Homo sapiens: one gene and its partners. The protein of the gene in region 3 purifies or fractionates together with the protein of the main gene of each other region. This does not show direct contact. Each region holds a gene or a part of one and is shown on either strand. Other genes may lie near its edges.

The links.
Region 1: the proteins of MN1 (region 3) and PBX1 purify together in Homo sapiens (affinity purification with western blotting; one study listed by BioGRID). This does not show direct contact.
Region 2: the proteins of MN1 (region 3) and TNPO1 purify together in Homo sapiens (affinity purification with mass spectrometry, with the first as the bait; one large-scale study listed by BioGRID). This does not show direct contact.
Region 4: the proteins of MN1 (region 3) and MOB2 purify together in Homo sapiens (affinity purification with mass spectrometry, with the first as the bait; one large-scale study listed by BioGRID). This does not show direct contact.

The regions. Positions count from the first base shown.
Region 1 is NC_000001.11:164,807,046-164,810,890, reverse strand, and holds part of PBX1 (pre-B-cell leukemia transcription factor 1), read right to left. Parts: intron 3,350-3,845; coding exon 3,214-3,349; intron 1-3,213. UniProt on the Homo sapiens protein: Transcription factor which binds the DNA sequence 5'-TGATTGAT-3' as part of a heterodimer with HOX proteins such as HOXA1, HOXA5, HOXB7 and HOXB8. Binds to the DNA sequence 5'-TGATTGAC-3' in complex with a nuclear factor which is not a class I HOX protein.
Region 2 is NC_000005.10:72,882,406-72,886,250, reverse strand, and holds part of TNPO1 (transportin-1), read right to left. Parts: intron 3,785-3,845; coding exon 3,724-3,784; intron 3,188-3,723; coding exon 3,019-3,187; intron 1-3,018. UniProt on the Homo sapiens protein: Functions in nuclear protein import as nuclear transport receptor. Serves as receptor for nuclear localization signals (NLS) in cargo substrates.
Region 3 is NC_000022.11:27,753,257-27,756,756, forward strand, and holds part of MN1 (transcriptional activator MN1), read right to left. Parts: intron 1-3,500. UniProt on the Homo sapiens protein: Transcriptional activator which specifically regulates expression of TBX22 in the posterior region of the developing palate. Required during later stages of palate development for growth and medial fusion of the palatal shelves.
Region 4 is NC_000011.10:1,476,537-1,480,381, reverse strand, and holds part of MOB2 (MOB kinase activator 2), read left to right. Parts: intron 1-3,845. UniProt on the Homo sapiens protein: Stimulates the autophosphorylation and kinase activity of STK38 and STK38L.

The DNA of each region.
Region 1 (3,845 bases), on a different chromosome or scaffold from region 3:
GAAATGCCAAGCCTTTCTTTTTTAAAAAAAAATCAGTCTGTACCACCACAATATTAAACAAAAAAGAAAAAAATTCAATAAGAAAATGCTTTATTTATTGTAAACACTGATGTCTACAGAAAAAGAGGTAAACTGGAGGAGGAAGGACACTTTTGGGTGTATTTCAGGATCACTGCATATCTAGTTTCACTTTGAAATTTATGTTTTTCTTGACATAACTTTCACTATTCATAGGAATCAGTCATAATTATGGTTGCTTTTTGATTTATGGGATAGGAAAAGAAGAAAAAAGGTAAGGAGATTTTTTTTCTCAGATAACTGCACAAGCTGAAAGAAAAGGGAAAAAGATGAAGATAATTTCAGAGGACTTTTGAAGAAGAAATACCTGAGGTCCAATTATATGTAAAAAAAATATGAGCTGAAGGGGGTAAAGAGGGGACATGTTGTGGGAATGATACCCTTCTAAATGACAACAATGGAACTGGTAGGAAGGTGCTAGGTCAGTTCAGGGACTTCCTGCATTGTCCAACAGACAATGATCTGGACAATGTATAAAATGAGTGTTATCATGAATGAACTAATTACTCAACAGTCATGGACTAAGGGCCTAATACGCGTTAGGCACTAGGGATGTATAGATAACAGACACAGAATGAGACATGAAATACAGAAAGAATAGTAGGTTTTATGGGAAGAGTTTGATTCACATTTTGAACAAGTTAATTTTGAAGAACCTCTGGGCAGAGCCATGATGAAGTCCATTAGGAAGTAAAATTTATGAGTTTGGTGCTGCAGGGGAGAAGTTCCATTAGGTATTCAAATGGAGGTATTATTTGTAGCTGTGAGCATGGAAAAGATCACTCAGATAAAGCATATAGAACATTGCTTTTCAAAGTTAAGTGTTCATGGGGAAGTTGTTAAAACAAATTTCTATTATAGATTTCACCCTCAAAGATTCTGATTCAGAATTAGGGTGACACTCAAGAATTTATATTTCTAACAGGCTCCCAGGGGATGCTGATGCTGCATTCTGTGGATCACACTTAGAGTAGCTCTGGTATAGAAAAAGGGCTCTTTAGGGATCTGAGGAGATACAGTCAATAGGCGGATTTCAGATGGATTTGGGTGTATGGGCAACATATCTTTGTTTTGGGTCATGGGGGAAATCAATAGCTTTTAGTAGATTTCAAAAGAATTTGTGACTTCAAAAAAAGACAATAATGATACAGCCCAAGAGGTATTCCCTGGCTTTGGGAATTAGGAGAAAGATTTAATAAATCATGTGATCCAACAAACCATGATTAGTAAATGGGGCAACTAAGATCCAAAAAGAAAGAGTGAGTTCCCTAGGATCCCACAGTTGACTCTTGTCAAAAATAGGCTCCTTGCTTAATGCTCCTTCTATGACATCATATTATACTGTCTTCCATTGGACTTGTTTAGCAATGGTAGCTTAGTTGCTTTGGGGAGAGACAGATGTGATGGGGAAGAAAGAATGGCATGACTTTGGCATGGACAGAGGAAAGGGAAAGGTGACACAATATGTAAATAAGGATTTTAATGGACACACTATTTGTACCTTGAGTTTCCATAATGAAGGAAGTGAAGGTTGCGGGAACAGATCAGGATTTTAACTTGTATCCAGCTATACTACAAATTACCTCCAGGAGAATTCCTTTTACCTTCAACAGGAAGTTGAAATTCTGAATTCCACACTTGGAATTCAGACAGTAGTAATTTAATTATATTTTAAAAGCAGAAGGTTCCATGATAAAATTCAGTGATTTGATATTTGCTGCATATTTGTGGTCCATACCTAGAAGCATTCCTCAAACATGTAGCAAGTATCAAAAAGCATTAATTCCCTTTTTTGTGGAAAAGGGGTTTAGATTTGGATAAGAATGGTGACAGCCCTAGAAAAAACTAGGCTACTTGAGTTTGACCGCTGACGTTCCCGTTTCCCAGAACTGTCAAGACTAAAAATGACCTCCAGCTGGGTCAAAGCACCTAAGGAAGGCCCAGGTTAAAAAGGAGTCAATTCATTCTGCTTTATCTGAAAGAATGTTTTCAAGGATATTTGCTGCTGTAAAATCATCTTAGTTTGTTGGGAAGGCTTGGACAGTCCCTTCATTGTCAATACTTTTGTGGAGCTCTATATTCTGACTGGACCTAATTCTGTACAGCTAAACACAGGTTGATGGGATCAGCACCCTGCAGGGATTAACAGAAGTCAGGATTCAATTCAAGGAGGTACAGATGCTTAGTTTATATAAAAGAGCATCTACTTCATTTGAAAAATGGTAAGTGAAATTTCTCGCTACAGTAGCCTTCACTACTCCCTCCCCTCCCCAGTTTTAATGGAAATATCAGTACATTTAATTCTCCTGCATGTGACAAAATTCTAAGAAAAACCTTCTCCGATAGATTTCAGAATTATCACTATGGTTCTCAATTAGAAACCAGTGGTGGTATTTGAGGTTCAGACTGAATAAGAAGTTTGGGTGGATCTTTTGAGTGGACAAAATACACGTACACATAATTATTGCCTACTTCTCTGCTTCATATTCGTGTTGAAAACTCTAGGCCTATAAAAATTTTATGTCATGTATCTTTCCAAGTCATCAGACACCACCTGTTATGGTTATTGCTCTTTGGGGGAAGGGGGCATTCAGTGACATTTTGTTCACCATTCCAATGTAATCGCAGTGACATGTTAAAATTCCTACACTCCCATCAGTTATAGAGTCAGCACATCAAGAGGAGACATTTAAGTTCTTTCATTTAAAAGGCTATATAACAACTAGTTCCATTCACTGACTCTTAAAGTTCCTGGGTTGGGCAAAAAATGGCTAAGGAATTGACTGAATTTGAAAAAACAGCATGAGGAATGCAGATAACTTTCCTAGTACACTTTAGACACCTCACCCATTTGAAGCAAAGGAGTGCTCGATGGGAAGAACCCTAATCCTGTTTTTACATTGTACTCTACTTATTCTTCTCTTCCTTCTGCTGGTTCTTCTCAAGTTTTGCCAAGTACTTACCTAGAAACTCACTTATACGCATACACATCAAGTGCTTACCTTGATATTTTAAGGCTATAGCTGATGGAACTTGCAAGGCATGAATGTCCAGTAAAGCAAGACCTCTAAGAGCCTGCCCCGGAGGCCCCGCCATGGCCAGGCTACAGGCTGAGGCTTTTGAGGTGCTGCTTACCTGGGAGACTGTGATGCCACACTTCTTGGCTAACTCCTCTTTGGCTTCCTCACTGGGGTAAGGGTTGCTGAGATGGGAATAGAAATATTCATTCAGGATTTCTGTCGCTTGCTTGTTGAAATTCCGTCTCTTCCGCCTTTGTAAAGAGAAAGGAAATAATAACAAAAAGGCTCACACCAAATAAATATAAAATGGGAGAGAATAAATCTACTTCTGGGAGAAGACAAATTTTTGAGCAAAAGGTGAATTTGGAGCAGATTTACCAAAAGGGGCTGGATGCCAAAACCAACGCTAAAAGCATTTGCTCAATACTTCATTGTGTACCATCTGGGCACCGAACAGAAGAGTGGTCACAGATATTTTTGCAGAGTAGTGAGGAGTATAAAGTTTCAAAATTCGGGCCATCTTGGTTTGTTTTTTTGAGATGGAGTTTCACTCTGTCACCCAGGCTGGAGTGCAGTGGTGTGATCTTGGCTCACTGGAACCTCCACCTCCTGGGTTCAAGTGATTCTCCTGTCTCAGCCTCTTGAGTAGCTGGGATTACAGGCACGTGCCACAACACCCAGCTAATTTTTGTATTTTTAGTAGAGATGGGGTTTCATCATATTGGCCAGGCTGGTCTCTAACTCCCG
Region 2 (3,845 bases), on a different chromosome or scaffold from region 3:
TACAAAGAATTAACTATGGGACTATAAATCAACCCAGATTTTATTATAATAATAATTTAGACAAGAGCAACAAAATCAAAAAGAACAACAAAAATATCATTTAACTGTTATGGGTAGGAACGTGTTCCTGAAGTTCATGTATTAGAAACCTAATCCCTAAAGCAACGAAGATGGGAGGTGGGGCCTATCAAGAGATGATTAGGTCTTAAGGGTTCTGCCCTCATAAATGGGTTAATGTCGTTACTGTAGGAGTGGGTTAGTTATCAAGAGAGTTGGCTTATTATAAGCGTGAATTGAGCTCTTAAGTGTGTCCTTCTGTCATCAGATGATGTTGCAAGGAGGTTCTCACCAGATGCAGCCCCTCCATTCTGAACTTCAGGTATCCTGTTATAGTAGTACAAAATGGACTAAGAAAATATCAGAAATTTCCAACGTGAACTAGGCATAGTAAATGGCTAATCACAAACTACTAGACAATAATAAAATCCTCAAAAAAAAAAAAAAAAACCAAACCAAACCAAAACAAAACCATTACATTGGCCAGAAATTAACACCTTACCCATCAATAAGGATCTTAGTTATACCACATGGTAGAGCCATACAACTAAACAGTACACTGACATGCAACAAAAGGAAATCTAAATCTGTATGTACTGAGGAAGAATGAGGCATACGATACACAGAAAGAAAGCAGCAGAGTACATATAATCTGATTTCACTTTTAGAAAACTGGCTTCTCCTCTAAAAAAGATGCCTGTATGTTTTCCCAAGCACGCACAGAAAAGCTTTTGGAAGGATACAAAGAATGGGATGTGAAGAGGAAGTGTTCCCCCATCCATGTATGTATATTATTTTGTAGAGTTTTCTGTGTAATGATCTTGAGCCATCCTGCTCCCCTAATCTGAAAGTAGGGATACACTGGGAAGTAATTTGTAATAGTAGTAAACACCATGTGTTGTCTTAACAAGTGAGACTTGGGTCCCAGTACTAGATGTGCTATCAGTACTAGCTATGCTAACCTTGGGTATATCTCTCTTTCTGCAGTTTTCTTGCCTATTCAAGGTTGTTGGAAATGTTAAATATGACTTTATTCTTACTTATGATTAAACAGACTTTGATATGCATGCAAAGTCCTTGGCCTAGTGCCTGGCACATTAGGCACTCTAAATAGAATGTTAGTTACAGGAAACTGAAGAGGCAACAGAGAAATTAGCATTATCTAACCAAATGAAGAACACAGCCCAGACTGATAATGTCTGTTCTTAACTGCTTTAATCATAGTTATTAGAAATCCCAACACTTTGAACTAGAGTAGTGGCTCTAAACTGGGGTTGATTTTGTTCCCCCAGGAGATAACGGTTGTCACAACTGTGTTTGTGCTGCTGGCATCTTTGGGTAGAGGCCAGGGATGCTGCTTAACATCCCACAACGTGCAGGACAGCCTCCGCAACAAAGAATTACATGCATGATGTGGCATTCACATGTAGAAAAAAAAAAAGAATTATGTGGCCCAAAATGCCAATAGTGCCAAGGCTGAGAAACCCTGAACTAGAGCAGTAGAGGTTTAAAATCCAGCAAACAAGCAAGCAAAATCAGAACACAGGTGTTTAGGTTCATCCCCAATTAGGAAGCGTGGGCCAGAATGCTAGCTCCACAGGTGATATGATTTGCAGCTAAGGTTGGAAATTAACATATTTTAAGAAGCATATTTCATAAATTTTGACTATAACAAAGCAACTTATAATAAATTTGAATATAATAAAGCAACTTATATTATTTTAGAATTACCTATGATAGCCAATTTTCATGCAAATTACCAGACAGAAAACACTCATGTTAGAAAAACCAAAAAAGCTTGTGGCAATGTTCTTACAGTATTAAAACAAACAGCCTTTTGAGAAATGGTAGTTTAAGAATATAATAATGATAAAATAAGAGCAGGTCCACCAGGAAAATGCAAACCAAAACCACAAAATACCACTTCACGTCCACTAGAATGACTATAATAATAAAGAGATAATAAAGCAAGTGAGCATGTGAAGAAACTGGAACCCTCCAGACAATGCTGCTAGGAAAGCAGAATGGTGCAGTCACTTTGGAAAACATCCTGGTTATTTCTCAAAAGGTTAAACATACAGTTACCATATGACCCCAACAATCCTTCTCCTGAGTGTTTACCCAAGAGAACTGAATACACATTGGGCCAGACACAGTGGCTTACGCCTGTAATCCTAGCACTTTGGGAGGGCAAGGCGGGTGGATCGCTTGAGCCCAACAGTTCAAGACCAGCCTGGGCAACATGGCAAAACTGTCTCTACCAAAAAAAAAAAAACAAAAATTCATCCAGGTGTATTGGTGAGCACCTGTAGTCCCAGCTACTTGGGGAGCTGAGGTGGGAGGATCACCAGAGCCCAGGGAGGTCAAGGCTGCGGTGGGCCATGACTGCGCCACTGCATAATCATGCTAGCCTGGGTGACAGAGACCCTGCCTCAAAACAAAAAAACAAACAAACAAACAAAAAAAGTCTACACACAAAAATTATACATGAGTATTTATAGCATCACAACTCAACAGCTACAAAAAGAGAAACACAAATGTCCACCAACCAATGAATGGAGAATATGTGGCATATTACAATGAAATATTATTTCACAATACAAGTGAATGCTACAAAATGAACCGTGAAAACTTTATGCTAAGTTAAAGAAGATGGTCACAAAGGACAATGCATTGTATGACTCCATTTACATGAAATGTCTAGAATAGGCAAACCCAGAGACAGAATATTGACTAGTAGTTGCCCAGAGCCAGTGAACAATAGGGAGTTACTGCTAAAGGGTATGGGTGATGAAAACATAGTCTACAACTGATTGTGGTAATGGTTGAACAGCTCTCTGAATATACTAAAAACCAATGAAATGTATACTTTAATGGGTAGTAAACTGTACAGTAGATGAATTATACCCCAATAAAGTTATCATCAAAGTAGGCAACTGTGCTTTTCCCTTTCTGACTTACTTAGATTCCAGTCAGAAATTGTATCATCATCATCAATTTCATCATCATCATCATCTTCCTCTTCAATTCCATCTTCATCATGCTGCTGAGCCACCGTCCTCGATCGGTGAAAACGTGGCCGTATATCCTGTTCACTATCAGGAATCGTTTCGTCTTCTTCAACATCACCCTGTTGTTTTTTTAAGAGAAATTTTTGGTGGCATTCATTATAGGCTAATAGTATGTACATGAGTAAGAGAAACAGAATATCCAGAGATGGGGTCATGCACAGAATTCTGAAATATACTTCCAGAGTGATTAAGAACCACGCCCATGTACAGAACATATTCCTTATGGAGGGGCGAATAGACTGACCTAACACACCTGTTAGGTTATACGGCCCTTTCAGCCAACTACATGGCCTCCACTGGCTGGTATAATCTAAGTTACCTGAATCAAATTCAGAGCAGCATATATAAGAATGTTTTTAAAATAACTCCAAGTAATTAAGGGGAAATTAATAATAACCCTACCAATGTCACCATCTAGTACCAAATTAAGCAAGAATTTATCATTACTTAAACTTATGCTTCTATCCTATTATGGATAATAGGAAGTCTATTTACAGGAGATCTATTCTCAATGAATGTTTTATTGGCCAAATCCAAAGATGTACTAAGTCAATATAAAAATCTTGTTCCCTATTCATCAAAAAAGCTTCCTTACCTTAAGTAGGATAATATCTATGTCTGAGTACTTCATGCCATTCACTAACACAGGAATCAACCTATAAAGAAAGAAATTCATGAAACAAAGACCTTAAGATCTCAAGAGAATAATTAATAAGT
Region 3 (3,500 bases):
CCTCCTCCTGGAGCTGATGGTGAGGCCAGGAAACAGTGTCTCTTTGTGACCAAAGCACGGTCACTTTGAAGTCACAGCCCCACTACTGTGTGGCCAAGGCTCTACCATGTTCCCTCTCTGGACCTCAGTTTCCCCATGGGTGAAATGGGGATGATGTCATCTCCCCTGGGGCCTTGTAATGGCCTGGCACACAGACAGTCCCCCAAACAGTGCTGCTGGGACTGTCATTCATATCTGGGAGGGTCGGGGGTGAGGGGGGCTTTGCAGCCACTTAGAATCCCCTAAAGCCCCACTACTTCCTGGGGCCCAGCTAGGTGGGCGTGTTCCTGCCCATGAAACAGGAGCCTTTGCCCCATTTCACAGAAGGAGAAACTGAGGTTCTGAATCCAAGGTTTCAAAGCTAGTTAGTAGTGGTGAAATCTGGATGTTGTTAATACCCCACCCAGGGCTTCCTGGGGAGAAGGTACACCAGGAAGCTTAAGGCATCAGATGCAGGGTTTCTAGGAACATGGCAGGCCCTGGATTCTGGCAATACTGAGGCACAGTGCCCCAACCTTTGCTCTTGAACCCATGCTTGCCTTGTTCCCAGCGACCCCTCCACCCTACCCTGCTTAATATCTCCAAAGGAATTTTATTCCAAGCACTGCAAGATCTGGACTGGGGTGGGGTGAGGGAAGTAGTACCTGCCACAGAGAGAGAGAAAGAGAGAAAATCTGAAAGGGGGTTATTTCCCCCACTTTGCACAAATTATCTCAAGGAATGAACGTAGCAATGCTTGAGCCCACTTTACAGATGAGGAAACAAACTCCGAGGGATGAAGCTCCTTGCCAAAGGAGAGATAAACTCTTTGCTCTGGGGCTGCAAACACCCAGAAAGTGAAAGAAAATTCCTGAGCAACACACCGGGCAGAGGAAGCTGGGTCTGCCAAGTGATGGGTAAGACAGACCCAAATGGCCAAATTTTCGAAAGACGCTTTCATCCCCAAGTTACAGCCATAAGCGTGCCGTGCACTAACGCCAGAAACCATTGCTGTTCTTATTAGGGGTGGATTTAATGAGGGCATCCCAGGCACACAACTGAACACTTCTGTGTATTATCTAAGCCCATCACCCAGCAAGCCCATCAGTGGGGGTGCCCCTTCTCCCCACCCCAGCAGGGCCACCCTGGGCTCAGAGAGGGTGAGAGCCTTGCCAGATGTCACAGAGCATGGGTGCAGGATTCCCCAGCCTCCGCCTAGAATGAGAAAGAGAGCCAACCAGTCTGGTATCCACAGGGAATATTTTTAAGAGAGAATATTATTCTTCAGTTCTTGACAACCCAAGCATGACCAAACTCATCCTCCCGCTGGATTCATTCCAGCTAGGGGGACCTAACACGCCCTCAGACCGCGGCTCCCCAGGGCTGCCGAGTCGCTGCCGATAAATCAGTCCCACGGAAGCCGCCTCAAGTCATGGCCTGCCCCAGCTCAAGAGAGGCCCTCAGTCTCCGCTCCTTGAGGCGGTAAGCACGCCAGCCCCCACGCCAGGACCCAGAGATAAAACCACCCCCTTGCCAAGCTCCCAGGGTTGGCGGAGATCATGGAGTCACTCAGCGCCCAGCACTGGCAGACATCACAGGACCCAGTGAGTGCTGTTCTGTTTTCCACTTGATTGTCAGCCTCCCCCATCAGACTGTGGCCATGTGGAGAAGGGCAGGTTTGGTCTGTTCACCCCCCGACCCTGCACACACCAGGCCCTCAGTTGGGTCCAGTGTACTGACTGTGAAGCGCCCTTCATCCCCATTTGACAGACGAGAAGACTGAGGCTCTAAGGGGCAGGAGCTACCCAGGGGTCACCCACGGCCATGTCACCAGCTCTGGTGGTGTGGCTCTCTCCTCTCAGCCCAGGATTCCCAGCTGCTCAGGCCAGGGTGGAATCCCAAATGCCCTGTATCTGGGCAGCTCCTGTCTGCAGAGCCACAGTTTCCTCATCTGCAACTTGGGGGTGGTGATTCCTGCTGAGCCCGGCTAAGAGCAGCATGGGAGACCTCACGAGAGACTGGCAATACCATGTGCATGTTGGGGGGTCAGTCCCAGAGGCTGGGGCAACATCATCTCAAAACAGATAACCCTGTGTGTGCCTCACCCGATTCAGGCAGCACAGGGGGCCGAGGGCAGGGGCCTCTGGTTCTTGGGGACTGATGGGCATGCCTGCCCAGCAAGGAAAGACTGCAGGACAGTTTTTAAGGACAGCTATGGCCAGAAAGAACCACCTCACACTCCATGCCCAGGGTCAAGGCCCAGAGCTGAGACAGACACCCCTGCTCTTTCTCCTCCCAAAAGCACTCCTCAGCTTTTCTTCATGGCACAAATCCTCGCTGATCTTCCGGCCTCTTCCTACTACCCCGTCACCCCTGCCCTGAACACCACAGCACTTCATTTGGTCATCATACTGCAGAGGTTCAGTCTGCCCCCTGCTCACCCCGCTGCGATCACGAGACCCACGTTGGATTCTGTCTTCCAAACTTCTCCATCCACAATGGAGACAGTCAGTTCCATTAAGGGAAGGAGAGAACCAGGAGCAGGTGCCAAAAAAAGCAATTGCGTGAATAACTCAACTCACTCCGTTTCTCTTACAGGGTTCAACAATGATAGTGGCCACCATTCGTGGAGCAAGGAACTTTTGTACATCACTTCAGCTCTCAGAACCTCGGTTCTAGGAAATGGGGGAAATAATAGGACCGGCCGTGATGGAGGCAGTTAGGAGAATTAAGTGAAATGATCCATGCAAAACGCTTAGCACGTGGGGCGCTCCTGCCAACGCTGGCTATGAGTACAGCCTGTCAATGTTGTTGGCCAGCCTGCAGGTGACAGTGGGGACCTGCAGGGCTGGGCCCGGGGAGGGCTGAGTGACCCTTCTGCAGGCTGTGCCTGGGGTGAAGGGAGAATGGAAAAGAGGGGACGTTTACCTGGGGATGTTGCATTTTAAATTTTGCTTCTAGAGATGCCACCCACCCATAGAGGGGGCCGAGTTTTCTTTTTTTCTTTGAAGTCAGCAAAACAGGCCTCGTCATCACCCTGCTCTGCACTAAAATCCGCGGACCAGGTTCCAATGTGGGTGAGCCACGTGCTCAGGCGTCGTGAGCCGGGCGGAGGTGGCTGCCACCTCCCACGCCAGGCAAAGGGCTGCCTCGGTGGTTCTCCCAGCCACGGTTCCACCACTGAGCCCCAGGGAAGGAGACTTCTGACCCAGCCACCTCCTGCCCCGCTGCCTACCTGAGGGAAAGCCAGGGGTATTCGGGAAGAAGGACAGAGCCCAACAACTGCCCATATCAAGGGCTCCCTGGGTACTCCGGGCTAGGTGCTCACCTCTTCTCTAGTACGGGAGGAGTAAGAGAACCTACCTTGCAGGCTGCTAGGAGGATTAAGTGAGATGACAGCTGGAAAGCCTTCAGCATAAGGTGAGCCCTTTGTCAAAAAAAGGGTAGCTGCTCTGACACTTATCATTCTTTTGTTGTTGTTG
Region 4 (3,845 bases), on a different chromosome or scaffold from region 3:
CTGGCTACAGCCCACTTTCTCTTGGGAGACTCGGTGGGGCTCTGAGCCCCCGCTGCCCCAGGCTCCTGTCCTCTCAGATTCCGTTCTCACCTGGAGACCCTGAGAAGTCTTGGCACAGGCCTTCCACAACATCCACCTTCCTGTGGAAAGGCCACAGGCTGGGCCAGTGGCCCAGCTACCCAGGTCCCCAGTGGGGCCCAGAAGGTGCAGGAGCTGGTGGGGGTTGATGGGCTATGTTTCTAGGGACAGAGACGTTTCCAGAAGGAATGCCCTAAGATTGCAGAGAGCCCTTCTCCGCTGGCTCCCGTGACAGCTCTGGATGGGACAGTGAGGGCTGGGCTGGGCAGGCCACAGGTCCTTGCTCGGCCATTCATTTCATGGGGGCTCAGTTACCTTCTCCGTGACCATCCAACATGCCTGGTGCTGGTAGCTCTCTCCTGGAAGCACTGCACCCTGATTTCCTCAGTAAATGGGTGTCCGTTAGTGGCCCTGAGCACCTCACTTGCGTAGCATGGGAAGGAGCGCCGCCAGGCCTGGGTTGCTGAAAGCAGCCTTGGAGGCTGCAGGCAGGAGGAGGCTGGGTCTGCTGGGCTTAGCCTGGGACATGTGCGGCTGAGGAGGGCGGAAGCTTTTCCCTGATGTCCCGTTGTTGTCAGTGCACACAGGTCAGGGACAGAATGTGTGCCTGTGAGTGCGTCCTGAAAGTCATCCTGCCCACAGACATGGCTTTCCTGGCCCTGGCACAGGGAGACGTGGTCCCCAGACAAAGCTGAGTTCTGCCTTCAAGAAGCCAAGGGGAGCTTCTGCACAGGCAGCTGGCAGGCGTCCCCTTGGCTTCAGTCCTGCTGGGCCCTGCCCTCATGGCCATGATGGGTCACAGCTTGGTTTGGTTATGGGTGACACCGGGGCAGGTACAGACAACAGCTGGCTTCACTGTCTTAATTCCCCAGGAAAATGAGGTGTCACAGCCAGGCATGGCCCAGGAAGATGGGGACAGTGCTTATGGCTTTGAGGGGAGCAAGCTCAATGTGAGACGGCGGTGGCCTCCATGGATCAGGCATGGAGATGGGTCCTGAGGTGGCAGGGCAGCACCCGAGAGCTACTCGAGAGCCTTGTGTCCACTGTGGCTCTGGAGCCACCTGTGGCCAAGTGCTGGCTCAGCGCCTCTGCTCCTGGGCAGACGGGGCCTGGCACCCTTCCCAGAGGCTCTGCTCCTGCATGTTCTGTGGTACTGGGTTGGTTTGGAAAAGGGGTCCTTGGAGGAGTGTAGGATGTGGTGTTGGGCAGACCTATGTCCCCTTGGAGGGCCTAGGCCACCCAGATTTGCCTCTTGGTCCTTCTCATCTGGAGCTGGCATCATGGTGGTAGTAGATGTGTGTGAATTAATTGCATGTAATGCCTTTCCAGGAATCCTTTCAAACCAAGGGACAGAAATCCACTCAAACTAAGAGAAACATGGAGACTTCTCAGAGGGCCTCAGGGCCACTTGCCACCCAAAAGACCAGCAAGTCTGCCTGGGTCGTGTGAGGGCTCTGGGATTGAGGCGCGTCTCCTCCCTGCTAGGGCCTGTAGGACAGTCCCAAAAAGGCTGATGTCTGACTCCTAGGGAGACGAGAAAGGGGGCGGGGCCGGAAACACATTGCAGCAATAATGGCTGAGAACTTCCCACAAAGACACAAACCTGCAGACTTAAGAAGCTAAGCAAACCCCAAATAAGGCTCACAGACACGTGCAGATGCATGCAACCAAATGCTGAGAACTGGGGGCAAAGAAAAAGCCCTTGGCAGCCATCCTCTGTCAGCAGTCAGACGGCGGTGGCCTGGTACTGACAACAGATGCCGCAGTGAATGACCGTGGCACTTTTAGAAACCCAGGAGGCCAGAAGGAAGAAGGAAGCCCCACACATCTTCCAGTGCTGGGAGAAAAGAAAGGTCATCCCAGAATTCCACATCCAGTCAGTGTCCAAAGTCACTCAAAACCAAGAGCCCTCACAGCCAGCAGACCTGTTCCAGAGGCTCCCTGCAGAGTTCTCCCAACAGGAGGGCCTCCTCCCACTGAGTGTTTGTGGAGACGCCAGTGATGGTGCAAGAAGACAAGAGTAGTGTCCGGCAGTGCCTGTGCAGTGCCGTTCCCAGGGCGGCCGTGGGGCCTGTGCAGTGCCATTTCCAGGGCGGCCGTGGGGCCTGTGGTGGCGGTGGGGCTGTGGCGGCTGTGGGGCCTGGCGGCGGTGGGGCTGTGGGCAAGAGAGCTGCTATGCTCCAGTGGAAGCACATGTGTGGGTGCCATGGAGAGCATGTGGGGTTGAGTTGCGTGTTACAGCCCTTTGAGCAGGCCTTGCAGAGCTTATGTGAAGAGACGCAGTCAGAATCAGAATAGGTAAATTTAAATGAAATACAAAAACATTTCAGTGGCCCAAGAGAAAGCAGGAAAGAAGAAATACCATAAGGAATGAGAAACAGAGGCAACAAACAGCAAATAGTGGAAAACCTAAATGCTAACAGATGAACAGACGGGACTGGGCAGCTTATGAGAATGTATTTTTAAAATAACCAACTCTCTGGTGTTTACAAGAAGCTCATTTGTTGTATTTCATTCGGGATGCTGTCACGAAACATGATAGGCTAGGTGGCTTGTGAACAACAGAATCTTATTTCTTGCGGTTCTGGAAGCTGAAAGTCCAAGGTGAAGATCCACTGTGGACCAGGAAGGGGGCACTGACCACGTCACTGGATCTGATTAGCCAGATTCAGTGTCTGGTGAGGGTCCCTTTCCTGGTCCACAGACAGCACCTTCTTGCTGGAAGGAAGGCAGGGCGACGGAGCCACCAGTTCTGTTCATGAGCGTTCTACCCTTGCAACCTCATCGCCTCCCAAAGGCCCCATCTCCAGATACCCTTGCGTCTGGGGTTAAGCTTTCAACATAGGAATGTGGGGCATAAGCACCCTGTGTGTCACACCACTCTAGGTGCTGTGGTGCAGGCGGGTGAGAAGTAAGAGGACAAGATGTGCTGAGAAAACACCCATCAGAAGGAAGCGGAAGTGGCTATGTCAGTGCCAAAGGAGACTCCGAGGAAGGAAGTGACCAGGAATAAGAAGGTTATCTAATTAGAAAAGGAGCAGCTCTTGAAGAAATCCTGCCATAAATGTGTGTGCGCCAGACAACAGGGCTTTCCACACAAAGCAAACGGACGGCCTGTGTAGAAATCACATGATCGCCGGGGATTGCAGCCCTCTCCTCAGTGATGGAGCCTCATAGACAGTCAGCGAGAGCACGGAGCCCGATGACCCCACCCGTGGGTTGGATTGAAATGACACATGCACTGCAGCCTCAACAGCAGAACACCCATCTTTTCAACTTCACAAAGATTAGCCACCAAGATGGAGCATACCTGTCACAAAAGAGCCCTTAACAAATTTTAAAAAATCAAAACCATACGAAGTAAGTTTTCTGACCATGGTGGGGTTAAATTAGAAATCAGTAACAGAGAACAGGAAAGTCTCCAAACACTTGCAGACTAATACAATTCTGAGTAGTCCATGGGTCCGAGAGGATGCCTCAACAAAAAAACTTTAACAAACTGTACACAGGAAAATACAGCATGTCAGAATTTGTGAGACATAACTCAAGCAGTGCCTAGAGGGGATTTATAGGATTAATGCTTTCTTAGAAAAAGAAGATGACTTTCAGTAATCTACGTTTCCAACTTAAACTAGAAAAAGAGCAAAATAAGTCAAAATCAAGGACAAGAAAGTAAATAAGAACAGAAAGCACTGAGATTGATTTTTAAAACAATAGGGGAAATGAGTGAAATCAAAATGTGATGACTTTGAAAGGTAATAAATTGG